Linked DNA regions of Homo sapiens: region 2 is linked to region 1. A link means that fine-mapping ties the variant in region 1 to the expression of a gene that starts in the linked region. Tissue or cell type: T cells. Region 1 holds a variant in brackets; the other region holds the start of a gene. All regions are shown on one strand. Distances are between the middles of the regions.

The links. PIP is the estimated chance that this variant, and not a neighbour inherited with it, causes the effect.
Region 2: it holds the start of CYP4F12, and the variant in region 1 is fine-mapped to the expression of CYP4F12 in T cells (TOPMed, PIP above 0.99). The same link has a PIP of 0.9 or more in blood mononuclear cells.

The regions. Positions count from the first base shown.
Region 1 is chr19:15,778,748-15,786,853 of GRCh38, reverse strand. It overlaps the pseudogene CYP4F24P. Among named protein-coding and RNA genes, the nearest start is that of OR10H5, 4.9 kb to the left of the region's middle. The variant G/A (reference allele first, on the strand shown) is at 4,386.
Region 2 is chr19:15,669,249-15,677,354 of GRCh38, reverse strand. It overlaps CYP4F12 (cytochrome P450 family 4 subfamily F member 12), which reads right to left and starts at 4,268. Exons shown (of 13, transcript NM_023944.4): 1 at 4,220-4,268; 2 at 3,628-3,826. The coding sequence starts at 3,825.

The sequences.
Region 1 (8,106 bases):
AGGCAAGGACTATGAAACAATATTGCTTACGAAGTTTAAATAACGAAATGTAATTTTGGAAATATCTTCAAGGATAAAGCATTGTAAAGAGCGGCAGGGTTGATTTGAAAAAAAAGATATATAATTTTTAGAACCAAAGCTACAATATTAATATCCCAGGAGAAGTTTAATGCATGTCAGACACAATTGAAGAGAGAATTAGTGAGTTGGGGGCCGGGCGCGGTGGCTCATGCCTGTAATCCCAGCACTCTGGGAGGCTGAGGCAGGTGGATCACTTGAGTTCAGGAGCTCAAGACCAGCCTGGCCAACATGGCGAAACCCCATCTCTACTCAAAATACAAAAATTAGTCAGATGTAGATTCTGGATATTAGCCCTTTGTCAGATGAGTAGATTGCAAAAATTTTCTCCCATTCTGTAGGTTGACTGTTCACTCTGATGGTAGTTTCTTTTGCTGTGCAGAAGCTCTTTAGTTTAATTATATCCCATTTGTCAATTTTGGCTTTTGTTGCCGTTGCTTTTGGTGTTTTAGACATGAAGTCCTTGCCCATGCCTATGTACTGAAAGGTATTGCCTAGGTTTTCTTCTAGGGTTTTTATGGTTTTAGGTCTAACATTTAAGTCTTTAGTCCATCTTGAATTAATTTTTGTGTAAGGTGTAAGGAAGGGATCCAGTTTCAGCTTTCTACATATGGCTAGCCAGTTTTCCCAGCACCATTTATTAAATAGGGAATCCTTTCCCCATTTCTTGTTTTTGTCATGTTGTCAAAGATCAGATAGAAGGACCTCTTCAAGGAGAACTACAAACCACTGCTCGATGAAATAAAAGAGGATACAAACAAATGGAAGAACATTCCATGCTCATGGGTAGGAAGAATCAATATTGTGAAAATGGCCATACTGCCCAAGGTAATTTATAGATTCAATGCCATCCCCATCAAGCTACCAATGACTTTCTTCACAGAATTGGAAAAAACTACTTTAAAGTTCATATGGAACCAAAAAAGAGCCCACATTGCCAAGTCAATCCTAAGCCAAAAGAACAAAGCTCAGAATCTACAATGAACTCCAACATATTTACAAGAAAAAACAAACAACCCCATCAAAAAGTGGGTGAAGGATATGAACAGACACTTCTCAAAAGAAGACATTTATGCAGCCAAAAGACACATGAAAAAATGCTCGTCATCACTGGCCATCAGAGAAATGCAAATCAAAACCACAATGAGATACCATCTCACACCAGTTAGAATGGCGATTATTAAAAAGTCAGGAAACAACAGGTGCTAGAGAGGATGTGGAGAAATAGGAACACTTTTACACTGTTGGTGGGACTGTAAACTAGTTCAACCATTGTGGAAGCCAGTGTGGCAATTCCTCAGGGATCTAGAACTAGAAATATCATTTGACCCAACAATCCCATTACTGGGTATATACCCAGAGGATTATAAAACATGCTGCTATGAAGACACATGCACACGTATGTTTATTGCGGCACTATTCACAATAGCAAAGACTTGGAACCAACCCAAATGTCCAACAATGATAGACTGGATTAAGAAAATGTGGCACATATACACCATGGAATACTATGCAGCCATAAAAAATGACGAGTTCATGTCCTTTGTAGGGACATGGATGAAGCTGGAAACCATCATTCTCAGCAAACTATCGCAAGAACAAAAAACCAAACACCGCATGTTCTTACTCATAGGTGAGAACTGAACAATGAGAACACATGGACACAGGAAGGAGAACATCACACACCAGGGACTGTTGTGGGGTGGGTGGAGGGATAGCATTAGGAGATATATCTAATGTTAAATGACGAGTTAATGGGTGCAGCACACCAACATGGCACATGTATACATATGTAACAAACCTGCATGTTGTGCATATGTACCCTAAAACTTAAAGTATAATAAAAAAAATTAGTCAGATGTGGTGGTGAACACCTGTAATCCCAGCTACTTGGGAGGCTGAGGCAGGAGAATCGTGTGAGCTCGAGAGGTGAAGGTTGCAGTGAGCGGGATGGTGCCACTGCACGCCAACCTGGGCAACAGGGTGAGACTCTGTCTCAAAACAAACAAACAAACAAACAAATAAATAAAAATAAAAGAGAGGGAAGAAAACATTAGGGTCAGAATGAGAAAGTGTAACCTTTGTTTAATTAGAATTTCAGAAGTAAAATAAAAAATAGGGCACAGGCATTGTTTGAAGAAATTGTGGCCAAGATTTTTCTAAAACTGATTGAAAACAGTTTAGATTCGAGAACCTCAATGAACCCCAAGCAACCATAAAGAGAAATCCACACCGTAACACATTGTGTTAAAACTTCAGAAAAAAAAAGAGAGAAAAAAATAACAGTAGTTAAGAAGAGGGGAGTAAAGAGAGAGATTAATTCTAAGGAGATGGACAGCTAACTTTTCAATGCCAAAAGTAAAATCTGGAAGACTATAGATGTCCTTTTCCATGTGCTTAAAGAAAGTAATTGCAATCTAGATTTTTTTTTTTTTTTTTTTTTTGAGACAGTGTCTCACTCTGTCACCCAGGCTGGAATGCAGTGGTGAAATCTCGGCTCACAGCACCTCTGCCTTATGGGTTCAAGCGATTCTCCAGCCTCAGCCTCCTGAGTAGCTGGGACCACAGGCACATGCCACCATGCCTGGCTAGTTTAGTTTTTGTTTAGTTCAGTTTTGTTTTTTGTGAGATGGAGTCTTGCTTTGTCCCCAAGGCTGGAGTGCAGTGGTGCGATCTCGGCTCAGTGCAAGCTCGGCCTCCCAGGTTCACGCCATTCTCCTGCCTCAGCCTCCCAAGTAGCTGGGACTACAGGCACCCGCCACCAGGCCCAGCTAATTTTTTTGTATTTTTAGTAGAGATGGGGTTTCACAGTGTTAGCCAGGATGGTCTCGATCTCCTGACCTCGTGATCCGCCTGCCTTGGCTTCCCAAAGTGCTGGGATTACAGGTGTGAGCCACTGCGCCCGGCCAGTTTTTGTTTTTGTTTTTTGTTTGTTTGTTTGTTTGTTTGTTTGAGACCAGTTTTTGTATTTTTTATAGAGACACGGTTTTGCCTTGTGGATCAGGCTGGTCTCCAACTCCTGGGCTCAAAGCAATCTGCCCACCTGTTCATGAAACTCTGGCCTTGCTCCCTGAGTCTGACAGGAATGGAACTGCCAGCAGGTGAGGTCTGTCCTTGCAGAGGGGGTGGGTATATTGGGTGATGCACCCCACTTACTGGGGGCTGTAAGTCCAGCTGCCTGATGTGGGGAAAAGAAAGAGAGATCAGACTGTTACTGTGTCTATGTAGAAAAAGGAAGACATAAGAAACTCCATTTTGATCTGTACAAAGAAAAATTGTTCTGCTTTGAGATACTGTTGTTAATCTGTAACTTTAGCCCCAACCCTGTGCTCACAGAAACATGTGCTGTATTGAATCAAGTTTTAAGGTATTTAGGGCTGTGCGGCATGTGCCTTGTTAACAATATGTTTGCAGACAGTATGCTTGATAAAAGTCATCGCCATTCTCCATTCTCTATTAACCAGGGACACGGAAAGCCACAGGGACCTCTGCCCAAGAAAGCCTGGGTATTGTCCAAGGTTTCCCCGCACCGAGACAGCCTGAGATATGGCCTCGTGGGAAGGGAAAGACTTTACTGTCCCCAGCCCGACACCCGTAAAGGGTCTGTGCTGAGGAGGAGTAGTGAAAGAGGAAAGCCTCTTTGTGGTTGAGATAAGAGGAAGGCCTCTGTTTCCCACATGTCCCTGGGAAGGGAATGTCTCAGTATAAATCTGACTGTTCATTCTATTCTGAGATAGGAGAAAACCGCCCTGTGGCTGGAGGCGAGATATGCTGGTGGCAATACTGCTCTGTTACTCTTTGCTACACTGAGATGTTTGGGTAAAGAGAAACATAAATGTAGCCCATGTGCACATCCAGGCACAGTACCTTCCCTTGAACTTATTCATGACACAGATTCTGTTACTCACACGTTTCCCTGCTGACCTTCTCCCCATCATCACCCTGTTCACCCTCTTCTCCCTCGCACTCCCCTTGCTGAGACAGTGAAAATAGTAATCAATAAATATTGAGGGAACTCAGAGACCGGCACCGGTACAGGTCCTCGCATGCTGAGTGTGCCAGTCCCCTGGGTCCACTGTTCTTTCTCTATACTTTATCTCTGTGTCTTATTTCTTTTCTCAGTCTCTCGTACCACCTGACGAGAAATACCCACAGGGGTGGAGGGGCTGGCCCCCTTCAGCCTGAATCCCCTGGCTGATTGAGCTGGCAGTGGTGGTGGGGTGGGGGAGGTCTAGGGGCTCCCCAACACCCAGCTAGTGTCAGGAGCACTGTCTTCCCCACCCTCCTGCTCAGCAGCTCTGCTAGGA[G/A]CCCCATCCTTCAAGACCCCCTTCTCCCGAGTCTACCCCATAGGGCAATTCTGGACAGGATCCAGGGAGGGCCAGGAGGAGAGCCCTGGATCTGTTGGGTGGAGCATCCTGGGTGTGGGAGGAGGAGCCAGGTGCTGATTCAACAGCCTCCAGATAGCTCCCCTCTGGGCCACCACGCTGCCTGAAATTCCTCCATTATAAATGTCCCTGTATTAATATGGCATTGACCCTAATGAATGGGGGTGGAGCAGCACGGCAGAAGGAAAGGATTTGGACTTGAGGGTCTCATAGACCTGAGTTCCTGTGAGCTCTGCAACTTGGGCTAGAGGCCTGGCCTCTCTGAGCCTCAGTTTGCTTTTATGTTAAATGGACATCTTCCCTCCTCTGGATGCCATCATTTGGGTCTCTCCAACAATCCCCGGGACTCTGGCCTAGAGAGCTGATGGGAGGGTAGTGGGACAGCTTTGGGCGTTGTCATCCAGCTGGGCATCTGATACAAGCAGGTGTGGTTTACGTAGAGCACCTGACACACAGTAGGTGCACTTTATGTAGAGCACCTGGCACACAGTAGGTGTACTTTACGTGGAGTACCTAACACATAGTAGGCACACTTTATGTGGCATACCTGGCACACAGTAGGTGGTCTTTATGTAGTGTACCTGGCACATAGTATGTGTGCTTTATGTCAAGTATGTTGCACAGAGCAGTTTTATTTTATGTACGGGGCCCAACATACAGGAGGAACATTTTATGTAGGACATCTGGCACACAATAGGTGTGCTTTATTTAGAACACCTGGCACACAGCAGGCATGGTTTATATAAAGGACCAGGGACTCAAGATACAGGATTTGTGAAGGGCGCCCAGCATACAGTAGACACTCTTTATGTGGAGCACCTGGCACACAGTAGGTATGCTTTATATATGGCATGTGGCACAGAGTAGGCACGCTTTGTATAAAGTACTCTGCACAAAGTAAGCTTACATTATGTAGAGCATGCTGCACACAGTAGGTGAGGTTTATGTGGTGTACCTGGCACATAGTAGACAGAATTTATGTAGAGTACCTGATACACAGTAGGTGCACTTTATATAGTGAGACTGGCACGCAGTAGGTACACACAGTAGTGTTTTCCATACAGTCTTTCGCATGGAGTAGAGACAGGCACACAGCAGCTCAAGTGCTAGTTGTCATCCCCTTCCCTTCAGTCCCTCTTTTTGGAGCTCTCTCTTCTTAGGAGCCTTCCTCTGTCGCCCTCTAAGGCCTCATCTGACATCCCATTTCCCAGATGGGAAGCCTGAGCCCAGGATGGCCACATTGCCCACAGTCAGAGAAAGGACAGGTCAGAACAAGGACTACACTCGGGGTCCCCTCGCTCTGCCCTCCCCTGCCTGGACCCCGTCTGCTCACAGCCCCTCTCAGCCTCATCCCCTATGCCTCTGCTCTGTCCTCTAAGCTGAGCCCAGCCTCTAGATTTGCTCCTCCAGCTGGGCTCTTTATCCCCAGACTCTGACCCAGGTAATCCTCAGCAGGGTTGGGACTGGATTCTTTCTTCCTGCTTCAAGCAGTCAGGTCTCAGCTCAGGCCCTGGGCTGCCTGGAGGCAGGACTTGAACTCTTGCCAGGCTGTGAAGCCAGAGATGAGAGGCTTCTGTCTCTGAATCTCCTAAGTCTGTACCAAGATGCAGCACCTGACATCCTCCCCGCCCATGTTTGGAGAGGAGCCCAGATGATCTGGGACAAGGGTTGGCCTGGCCCAGCTCAGGTGGCTGTGAACTCTCAAGTTCATGCTTTTACCTGCCACATCCTTGCCTTGAAAGGGCAGGGTGGCTGTAAACTTGGGGCTCAGAGTCCCCTTTAACCACTCCCCAACTTCCCCTCTAAACTGTGAGGGAGATGCTGAGACCTGAGGATCCAGTCCCCATACTGGGGCACCCTGAGCTGGTTCCTCTGCACCCAGCTGGCCAAACCCCAGGTTTTGGCCGGCATCTCCCAGGCAAGGGAGATGCACCCAGGCTGTGGAGATTGACTGGCCCAGCCCAGCGCAGCCCAGCCTCCCACGACCTTTCCCTAAATCAGGGGCCAGAGGCAAAGAACTCCCAGCAGAAGAGGAGAGGAGGTTGTGTGGTACAAGCTGCTCCTGACAGAAGGTGCCAGGCTGGGGGTGGTCAGACTGGAGCCTCCTGGCCTGGGATGGGGAGGGGCACTGCCCAAGGCTGGGGTGTCTCCAGGCTGCTGGCCTGGGAGACTGGTGGTTTCCTGGTAACCGGACCCCTGGCAACCTCCCAGTGATTCAGGCTGGGCCTTTCTGGACTCTAATCAGTCTCTCTCTCTCTTCTCCTTTCTGGGTGGTTACTAGGCAACTAGAGGCCACTTGGCTATTGGATTTGGCTGGGGCTTTCTGGAATTTAGCTCTCAGTCCTTGTTTATTCATCCCAGAGCCCTCCCTTTCCTGCCTCCACCCACCCCTTCCCTGCTTCTCTCCACTGTCCCTGGAGCTCCCTGAGACTTTCCCTGGGCCTCAGGATCTCACCCTCCATCCTGTCTGCCCTGCAGGATGCCGCAGCTGAGCCTGTCCTGGCTGGGCCTCGGGCAGGTGGCAGCATTCCCGTGGCTGCTCCTGCTGCTGGCTGGGGCCTCCCGGCTCCTGGCCGGCTTCCTGGCCTGGACCTATGCCTTCTATGACAACTGCCGCCGCCTTCAGTACTTTCCACAACCCCCAAAACAGAAATGGTTTTGGGGTCAACCAGGACCTCGTGAGTGTGGCAGCAGGATGACTCTGGGATCTCAGGGTGGATGGAATTCCCAAAGGGCAGGAAGGGGGATCAAGGAGCTGGGTTTAGAGGGTGGCTGAGGTGTGGGCCGGCAGAGAAGCGAGGGAGGCGGCTCATTCACTCACTCCTCTACCCATGCACTCACTCCTCTCCTCACTCACTCACTCCTCTACCCATGCACTCACTCCCCTCCTCACTCACTCACTCCCCTCCTCACTCACTCACTCCCCTCCTCACTCACTCACTCCCCTCCTCACTCACTCCCCTCCTCACTCACTCACTCCCCTCCTCACTCACTCACTCCTCTCCTCACTCACTCACTCCTCTCCTCACTCACTCACTCCTCTACCCATGCACTCACTCACTCCTCTACCCATGCACTCACTCACTCCTCTACCCATGCACTCACTCACTCCTCTCCTCACTCACGCACTCCTCTCCTCACTCACTCACTCCTCTCCTCACTCACTCACTCCTCTCCTCACTCACTCACTCCTCTCCTCACTCACTCACTCCTCTCCTCACTCACTCACTCCTCTACCCATGCACTCACTCACTCCTCTCCTCACTCACGCACTCCCCTCCTCACTCACTCACTCACTCCCCTCCTCACTCACTCACTCCCCTCCTCACTCACTCACTCCCCTCCTCACTCACTCACTCCCCTCCTCACTCACTCACTCCTCTCCTCACTCACTCCTCTACCCATGCACTCACTCACTCCTCTACCCATGCACTCACTCACTCCCCTCCTCACTCACGCACTCCTCTCCTCACTCACTCACTCCTCTCCTCACTCACTCACTCCTCTCCTCACTCACTCACTCCTCTACCCATGCACTCACTCACTCCTCTACCCATGCACTCACTCACTCCTCTCCTCACTCACGCACTCCTCTACCCATGCACTCACTCACTCCTCTCCTCACTCACTCACTCCTCTACCC
Region 2 (8,106 bases), 110 kb after region 1:
TGAGTGAGTGAGGAATGAGTTGAGTGAGGAGAGGAATGACTAAGTGAGCAGAGGAATGAGTTGAGTGAGGAGAGGAATGACTAAGTGAGCAGAGGAATGAGTGAGTGAGGAGAGGAATGAGTGAATGGGTAGAGGAATGAGTAAGTGAGGAGAGGAATGAGTGAGTTGGTATTGGAATTAGTGAGGAGAGGAATGAGTGTGGGTAGAGGAATGAGTGAGTGAGGATATGAATGAGTGAGTGAGCAGAGGAATGAGTGAGTGAGGAGAGGAATGAGTGAGTGAGGACAGGAATGACTGAATGAGGGGAGGAATGAGTGAGTGAGGAGAGGAATGAGTGAGTTGGTATTGGAATGAGTGAGTGAGGAGAGGAATGAGTGAATGGGCACAGGAATGAGTGAGTGAGGAGAGGAATGAGTGAGTGGGGAGAGGAATGAGTAAGTGAGGAGAGGAATGAGTGAGTGAGGAGAGGAATGAGTGAGTGGGTAAAGGAATGGGAGGAAGGGAATGAGTGAGGAGAGGAATGAGTGAGTGGGTAGAGGAATGAGTGAGTGGGTAAAGGAATGAATGAGTGAGGAGAGAAATGAGTGAGTGAGGAGGGGAATGAGTGAGTGAGGAGAGGAATGAGTGAGTGAGGAATGAGTTGAGTGAGGAGAGGAATGACTAAGTGAGCAGAGGAATGAGTGAGTGAGGAGAGGAATGAGTGAATGGATAGAGGAATGAGTAAGTGAGGAGAGGAATGAGTGAGTTGGTATTGGAATTAGTGAGGAGAGGAATGAGTGTGGGTAGAGGAATGAGTGAGTGAGGATATGAATGAGTGAGTGGGCAGAGGAATGAGTGGGTGAGGAGAGGAATGAATGAGTGAGAAAAGGAATGAGTGAGTGAGGACAGGAATGACTGAATGAGGAGAGGAATGAGTGAGTGAGGAGAGGAATGAGTGAATGGGCACAGGAATGAGTGAGTGAGGAGAGGAATGAGTGAGTGAGGAGAGGAATGAGTGAGTTGGTATTAGAATGAGTGAGTGAGGAGAGGAATGAGTGAATGGGCACAGGAATGAGTAAGTGAGGAGAGGAATGAGTGAGCCGTCTCCCTTGGTTCTCTGGGTTCCCAGACCCCAGCCACCATCAATACACAGCTCCCTGAACCCCTACTGGAAGTCCCACCCCTCTGGAAGTCCACCCACCCTGAGACGCCAGACCCCATCCAATCCATTGAGGGCATGAACAGGACAAAAGGCAGAGGAAAGGAAGAACTTGCTCTCTCTTCTGCTGCTGGGATATCCGTCTTCTCCTGCCCTCAGAACTCCAGGGACTCAGGCCTTTCTGGACTCAGGCTGAATTTACACCACCAGTGTCCCTGGTTTCTGGCTTGCAGATGATATATCATGGGACTTCTTGGCCTCCATCATCACATTATCCAATTCCCATAATAAATTCTTATCTCTCTATCTCTTTCTGTCTCCATACATACATGCATTAGAGATAAGAAGAAACACCCTATCTGTTTCTAAGGAGATTCCGTTTCTAGGGAGAACCCTGACTAATGCACCTCCCTAGATGAAGCCACAGCAAGTCCCCCCACAGCCACCGGATGTGGTGCAGCCTCTGCAGTGAGCAGCGTGTCTGGATTCTCAGCAGCTGCAGTGGGTTTCTGCTGACTTCTGCTCCTTCTCTCTTGGAGCTGTCCCCAAGATCCAAGGGTAAATACCAAAGCAGAGAGAGAAGACAAGCTGTCTGCTCAAGAGGATGTGTTTTCTCATCCTGGATTGATTTCAATCTGGGGATTGCTATATGGGAAGGTCCCCATGGAAGGAGGTTTGTGGGCAGCAGTGTGGCCTCAGGACATATCCCTAGAGCTGGTTGCCATATCCTTTTGTGTCCTGGTTGGTCCACATGGGCACTGGTTCCTCCCACAGACAAAGGGCCTGCGTCCTGAGGGCCCTCCATTCTCAGCAGCCTCCAGGGGAGCAGAGGTGACTCTAATGTCCATCAGGATGGCAGCTCCCACCTAGGAGAGCCTCACTTATGCCAGGTTCTGTGCTAGTGCCTCCTGTGCACCTGTGGACACACCGATCAATCCTGCCTTTTGTAAGTGAGCAGACAGAGGCCACATCCCCCAAAGGGGAGGGCCGGTCCCAGTCGGAGGGAAAGGTTTGGGAGTACCAAGGACGGCTTCTGAAAGGGGAAGGGAGTGGCCAAATTATATCCAGGTTGGGCTACAGGGCTCACTGGGACATCTTACTGGGGAAGAGCACATTGTCCCTGGAAGGAGAGGGTGTGGGAGACTGCCTGCACTTCTCTTCTGGTCCAGCTGTGTCCCTCCGTGGGGAAGGAAGTCAGAGATAATTCCTGCGGGAAAGCAGCAGCCCAGAGATGGGCAGATACAAGCAAATGGGCCATGCAGGGAGCAGCCTGTCTATCGGGGCTCAGAAGGCTTCAAGTCCAGCAGTGGAGAAGGTGGGAATGCCAGGAGAGCCCTGCTCTGTGCACCCCACAACCATACAGGAGCCTCTGGGAGGGGCACTACGGTAGGGAAGACAGGCAGGAAAAGGATCCAAGCAGGCTGAGGTGGGAGGACAGGGAGGTGAGAAAGGTTTGGCATGGAACTGCAGAGGAATGAATGAATGAGGAAAGGAATGAGTCGGTGGGTAGAGGAATCAGTGAATGAGGAGAGGAATGAGTGAGTGAGGAGAGGAATGAGTGAGTGGGGAGAGCAAAAAGTGAGTGGATAGAGGAATAAGTGAATGGGTAGAGGAATGAGTGAGTGGGCAGAGGAATGAGTGAGTGATGAGGGGAAGGAGTGAATGAGGAGAGGAATGAGTGAGCAGAGGAATGAGTGAGTGAGCAGACGAATAAGAGTGAGGAGAGGAATGAGTGAGTGAGGAGAGGAATGAGTGAATGAGAGGAATGCGCGAATGAGAGGAATGCGCGAGTGAGGAGAGGAATGAGTGAGTGAGGAGAGGAATGAGTGAGTGGGTAGAGGAATGAGTGAGTGAGGAGAGGAATGAGTGAGTGGGTAGAGGAATGAGTGAGTGAGGAGAGGAATGAGTGAGGAGGGGAATGAGTGAGTGAGGAGAGGAATGAGTGAGTGAGGAGGGCAATGTGTGAGTGGGTAGAGGAGTGAGTGAGTGGGTAGAGGATTGAGTGAGTGGGTAGAGGAGTGAGTGAGTGGGTAGAGGAATGAGTGAGTGAGGAGAGGAATGAGTGAGTGAGGAGAGGAATGAGTGAGTGAGGAGAGGAGTGAGTGAGTGAGGAAAGGAGTGAGTGAGTGGGTAGAGGAATGAGTGAGTGAGGAGAGGAATGAGTGAGTGAGGAGAGGAGTGAGTGAGTGGGTAGAGGAGTGAGTGAGTGGGTAGAGGAGTGAGTGGGTAGAGGAATGAGTGAGTGGGTAGAGGAATGAGTGAGTGGGTAGAGGAGTGAGTGAGTGGGTAGAGGAGTGAGTGAGTGGGTAGAGGAGTGAGTGGGTAGAGGAATGAGTGAGTTAGCAGAGGAATGAGTGAGCCATCTCTCTTGCTTCTCTGGGGTCGCAGACCCCAGCCACCATCAATACCTAGCTCACTGAGCCCCATTCCTGCTCCTCTGGAAGTCCATCCACCCTGAGACCCCAGACACATTTTGCTGTCACACTCACCAGGCCCAGGTGACCCCAAAACCAGTTCCGTTTTGGGGGCTGTGGGAAACACTGGAGCCGGCGGCAGTTGTTATAGAAGGCATAGGTCCAAGCCAGGATGCGGGCGAGTAGCCAGGAGCCCACAACCAGCAGCAGGAGTAGCCATGGGGACGTTGCCACCGGTCTGAGGCCCAGCCAGGGCAGGCTCAGCAGCGACATCCTGCAGGGCAGAGGGGATGCAGGGTGAGGACCTGAGGCCCAGGGAAGAGCTCCGGGGACAGTGTATAGGGGCGAAGTCAGGAACTGCTGGGGGCAGGGCAGGGAGGGCTCAGGGGTGAGTAAACGAGGGCTGAGATCTGAAGTCCAGAAAGTCCCAACCAAAACCAACAACTAAGTGGCCTCCAGTAACCTGGTAACCACACAGAAAGGGAAAGAGATGGGCCGATTAGAGTCCAGAAGGGCCCCACCTGAATCCTTGGGAGTTTGCTAGGAGTCCAGTTACCAGGAAACCCCCAGTTTCCCATGCCAGCATCTTGGAGCCACCCCAGCCTTAGGCAGTCCCCTCTTCATCCCAGGCCAGGACCTTCCAGCCCTGCCACCCCCAGCCTGGTACCTTCTGTCGGGAGCAGCTTGTCCCACACAACCTCTTCTCCTCTTCTGCTGGGAGGTCTTTGGCCCTGGCCCCTGATCTAGGGAAGGCCGTAGGAGGCGGGGCTGGGCTGGGCTGGGCTGAGGCAGCCAATCCCCACAGCCTGGGTGTGTCTTCCGTGCCTGGGCAGCCAGCCAAAACCTGGGGTTGGGCCCACTGGGTGCAGCTCAGGGTGCCCCAGCACGAGCACTGAATTCTCAGGTCTCAGTACCTTCTTGGGAGTTTGCAGGGGAAGTTGGAGGGTGGTTAGAGGGGACTCTGAACCCCAAGTTTACCTCCACCCTGCCCTTCCAAGACAAGGGTGTTCAGATAAAAGCATATACTTATCATGACAGTTGGCAGCCAGCTGAGCTGGGCCAGGCCAACCCTTGTCCCAGATCATCTGGGCTCCTCTCCAAACATGGGCGGGGAGGATGTCAGGCACTACATCTTGGTGCAGACTTAGGAGATTCAGAGACAGAAGCCTCTCATCTCTGGCTTCACAGCCTGGCAAGAGTTCAAGTCCTGCCTCCTGGCAGCCCAGGGCCTGAGTTGAGGCCTGACTGCTTGAAGCAGGAAGAAAGAATCCAGCCCCAACCCCGCTGAGGATTACCTTCGTCAGATTCTGGGGATAAAGAGCCCAGCTGGAGGAGCAAACCTAGAAGCTGGGCTCAGCTTAGGAGGACAGAGCGGAGGCACAGGGGATGAGGCTGAGAGGGGCCTTGAGCTGACGGGGTCCAGGCAGGGGAGGGCAGAGCAAGGGGATCCCGAGTGGAGTCCTTGTTCTGCCCTGTCCTTTCTCTGACTGTGGGCAGTGTGGCCATCCTGGGCTCAGGCTTCCCATCTGGGAAATGGGATGTCAGATGAGGCCTTAGAGGGCGACGGAGGAAGGCTCCTAAGAAAAGGGAGCTCCAAAAAGAGGGACTGAAGGGAAGGGGATGACAACTAGCACTTGAGCTGCTGTGTGCCTGTCTCTACTCCATGCGAAAGACTGTACGGAAAGCACTACTGTGTGCACCTACTGTGTGCCAGTTTCACTATATAAAGTGCACTTACTGTGTATCAGATACTGTACATAAATTCTGTCTACTATGTGCCAGGTATGCCACATAAAGCTCACCTACTGTGTGCAGCATGCTGTACATAATGTAAGCTTACTTTATGCAGAGTACTTCATATAAAGCGTGCCTACTCTGTGCCATGTGCTGTATATAAAGCATACCTACTGTGTGTCAGGTGCTCCACATTGAGCATGTGTACTACGTACCTGGTGACCCACAGAAAGCGCACCTACTCTGCATCAAGTAATCTACATAAATCTTGTCTACTGTGTGCTGGCTATTCTACATATAGTGCACCTACTGTGTGCCAGGAGCTCCACATAAATACTGTCTACTGTATGCTGGGAGCCCTTCACAAATCCTGTATCTTGAGTCCCTGGCCCTTTATATAAACCATGCTTGCTGTGTGCCAGGTGCTCTAAATAAAGCACACCTACTGTGTGCCAGATGTTCCACATAAAATGCTTCTCCCGTGTGTTAGGTCCCCTACATAAAGTAAAACTACTCGGTGCAACATACTTGACATAAAGCACACATACTGTGTGCCAGGTACACTATATAAAGTGTGCCTTATTGTGTGCCAGATATGCTACATAAAGAGCACCTACTGTGTGCCAGGTATGCCGCATAAAGTGTACCTACTATGTGCTAGGTACGCCACATAAAGTACACCTACTGTGTGCCAGGTGCTCTACATAAGGTGCACCTACTATGTGCCAGGTGCTCTATATAACGTGCACCTGCTTGTATCAGATGCTCACCTGCATCACAGTGCCCAAAGCTGTCCCACCACCCTCCCAACAGCTCCCTAGGCCAGAACCCTGGGCATTGTTGAAGAGACCTGAGTGATGGCATCCAGAGGAGAGAAGGTGTCCATTTAACACAAAAGCAAACTGAGGCTCAGAGAGGGCAGGCCTCTAGTCCAAGTTGCAGAGCTCATAGGAACTCAAGACTATGAGACCCTCAAGTCCAAATCCGTTCCCTCTGCCATGCTGCTCCACCCCCATTCTTTAGTGTCAATGCCATATTAATATAGGGACATTTATAATGGAGTAATCTCAGGCAGTGTGATAGCCCCAAAGGGGAAATATCTTGAGGCCCTTGGATCAGCACCTGGCTCCTTCTCCCACATGCAGGATTCTCCTCCCAACAGATCCAGGGCTCCCCTCCTGGCCCTCCCTAGATCCTGTCCTGAATTGTCCTGTGGGGTGGACTCAGGTGAGGGGGGCGCTTGAAGGAGGGGGCTCCTAGCAGAACTGCTGAGCAGGAGGGTGGGGAAGACAGTACTCCTGACACTGGCTGGGTACTGGGGAGCCCCTAGACCACCCCCACCCCACCACCCCTGCCAGCTCAATCAGCCAGGGGATTCAGGCACCTGGTCCTACAGCTTCATTCGCGTAGGGTGCATCCCCCAAAATCCCCACTACCTCTGCAAGGACAGACCTCACCTGCTGGTGGTTCCATCCTTCTTAGGCTCAGGGAGCAAAGCCAGGGGTTGATGAACAGGCAGGGTCCTAGGGACACAGAAGAAAGTGCCCCCAGTGGCTAGAGGGGCTCAGCTCACTGCAGACCTCCTGTGTGCCTGGGATGGGCAAGCAGGTTAGAGCAGGAATGGCGGCCATCGACATTGCCAACATGAGTCATGGAGCCTGTTTTAAGTCTTTTAACTATATTAACCATTTTGTTTTTCCATTTTACAAATGAGAAATCCAGTCTGGAAAATATTTGAGTGACTACCCACAGTCATAGAGCTGGTGGATCTGGGCTGTGCACCCAGACCACCCACCCAGCCTCACATTGTGCCCCCCTCACCACCAGGCTGTGCTCCTTCACGTCCGTAAATGGGCGTTTCAGCAGCAGCACCTCACAAGGTTGTTGCAATAACGAAAACAGATTATGCATGCAAAATGACATTTCAGGGATAAAAAGAAGGGAGTAAAGGGGAAGTTCATCTACTAAACATGTGTTAAGTGGCATCATCTCCCCTCACATGTTGTCACCAATTCTCTCAGCAGAGCAGATCTTTGCTGTCCAAACAGCCTGCAACTTCTCCCCTGATAGCCAGACTGGGTATTAAGCCTTGCCTGTCATCCTCTACTCCTACTCCCACTAAGCAATAGTAGCAGAATAGACAAAAACAACTCCTCCTCCCATCCCCACCTGGGGAGCAGAGCCATCGGCATTGCCAACATGAGTCATGGAGCTCAGGAACAGCCACCAGCACCTGCACTCACCATTCAATCTCTTTAGGCTCCCAGACCTTCAGAAACTCTTGCCTTTCCTGCCCGCAGCGCTCCTGGCATTCTGGGTGCATTGCAAGGTTGTACTGGACCCAGGAGAGACCACTGGTCCTGGTGTCATAGCCTGAGGGGCAGCCAGGCAGTCTTGGGTCTCTGGGCTGCTTCAGCACAACAGGGTGGACAGCACCCATGGATTGAGGGCCTCAGAGAGGATGGGGGAAGGGGGATGGGAAGGGTGAAGCCATCCAGGGTCCACCCACCACGTCCCTGGGATGAGACATCTTGGTCCTCACTGGGATCCTCTCCCTCAAACATGAAGGTGTCAGCCTACACTCTTATGTCCTCATCAGACAACTCCTTCCCATCTTCATCCTGGAGAGAAGGAAAAACACCCTTGAAAACCACACAAGCTCTGAGGACTCCTCAGTCTAACATGAAATAAACTCTGAAGATCCATCCTCTTTCCAGAAACCCAAGCCCAGCTTGCACTCCTAGATGTCTCTTGGTCACCATCACCAGAGCCCACACCATGCAATCTTCCTCACTGGCTTCCTTCCTTCTTCTTTTGTCC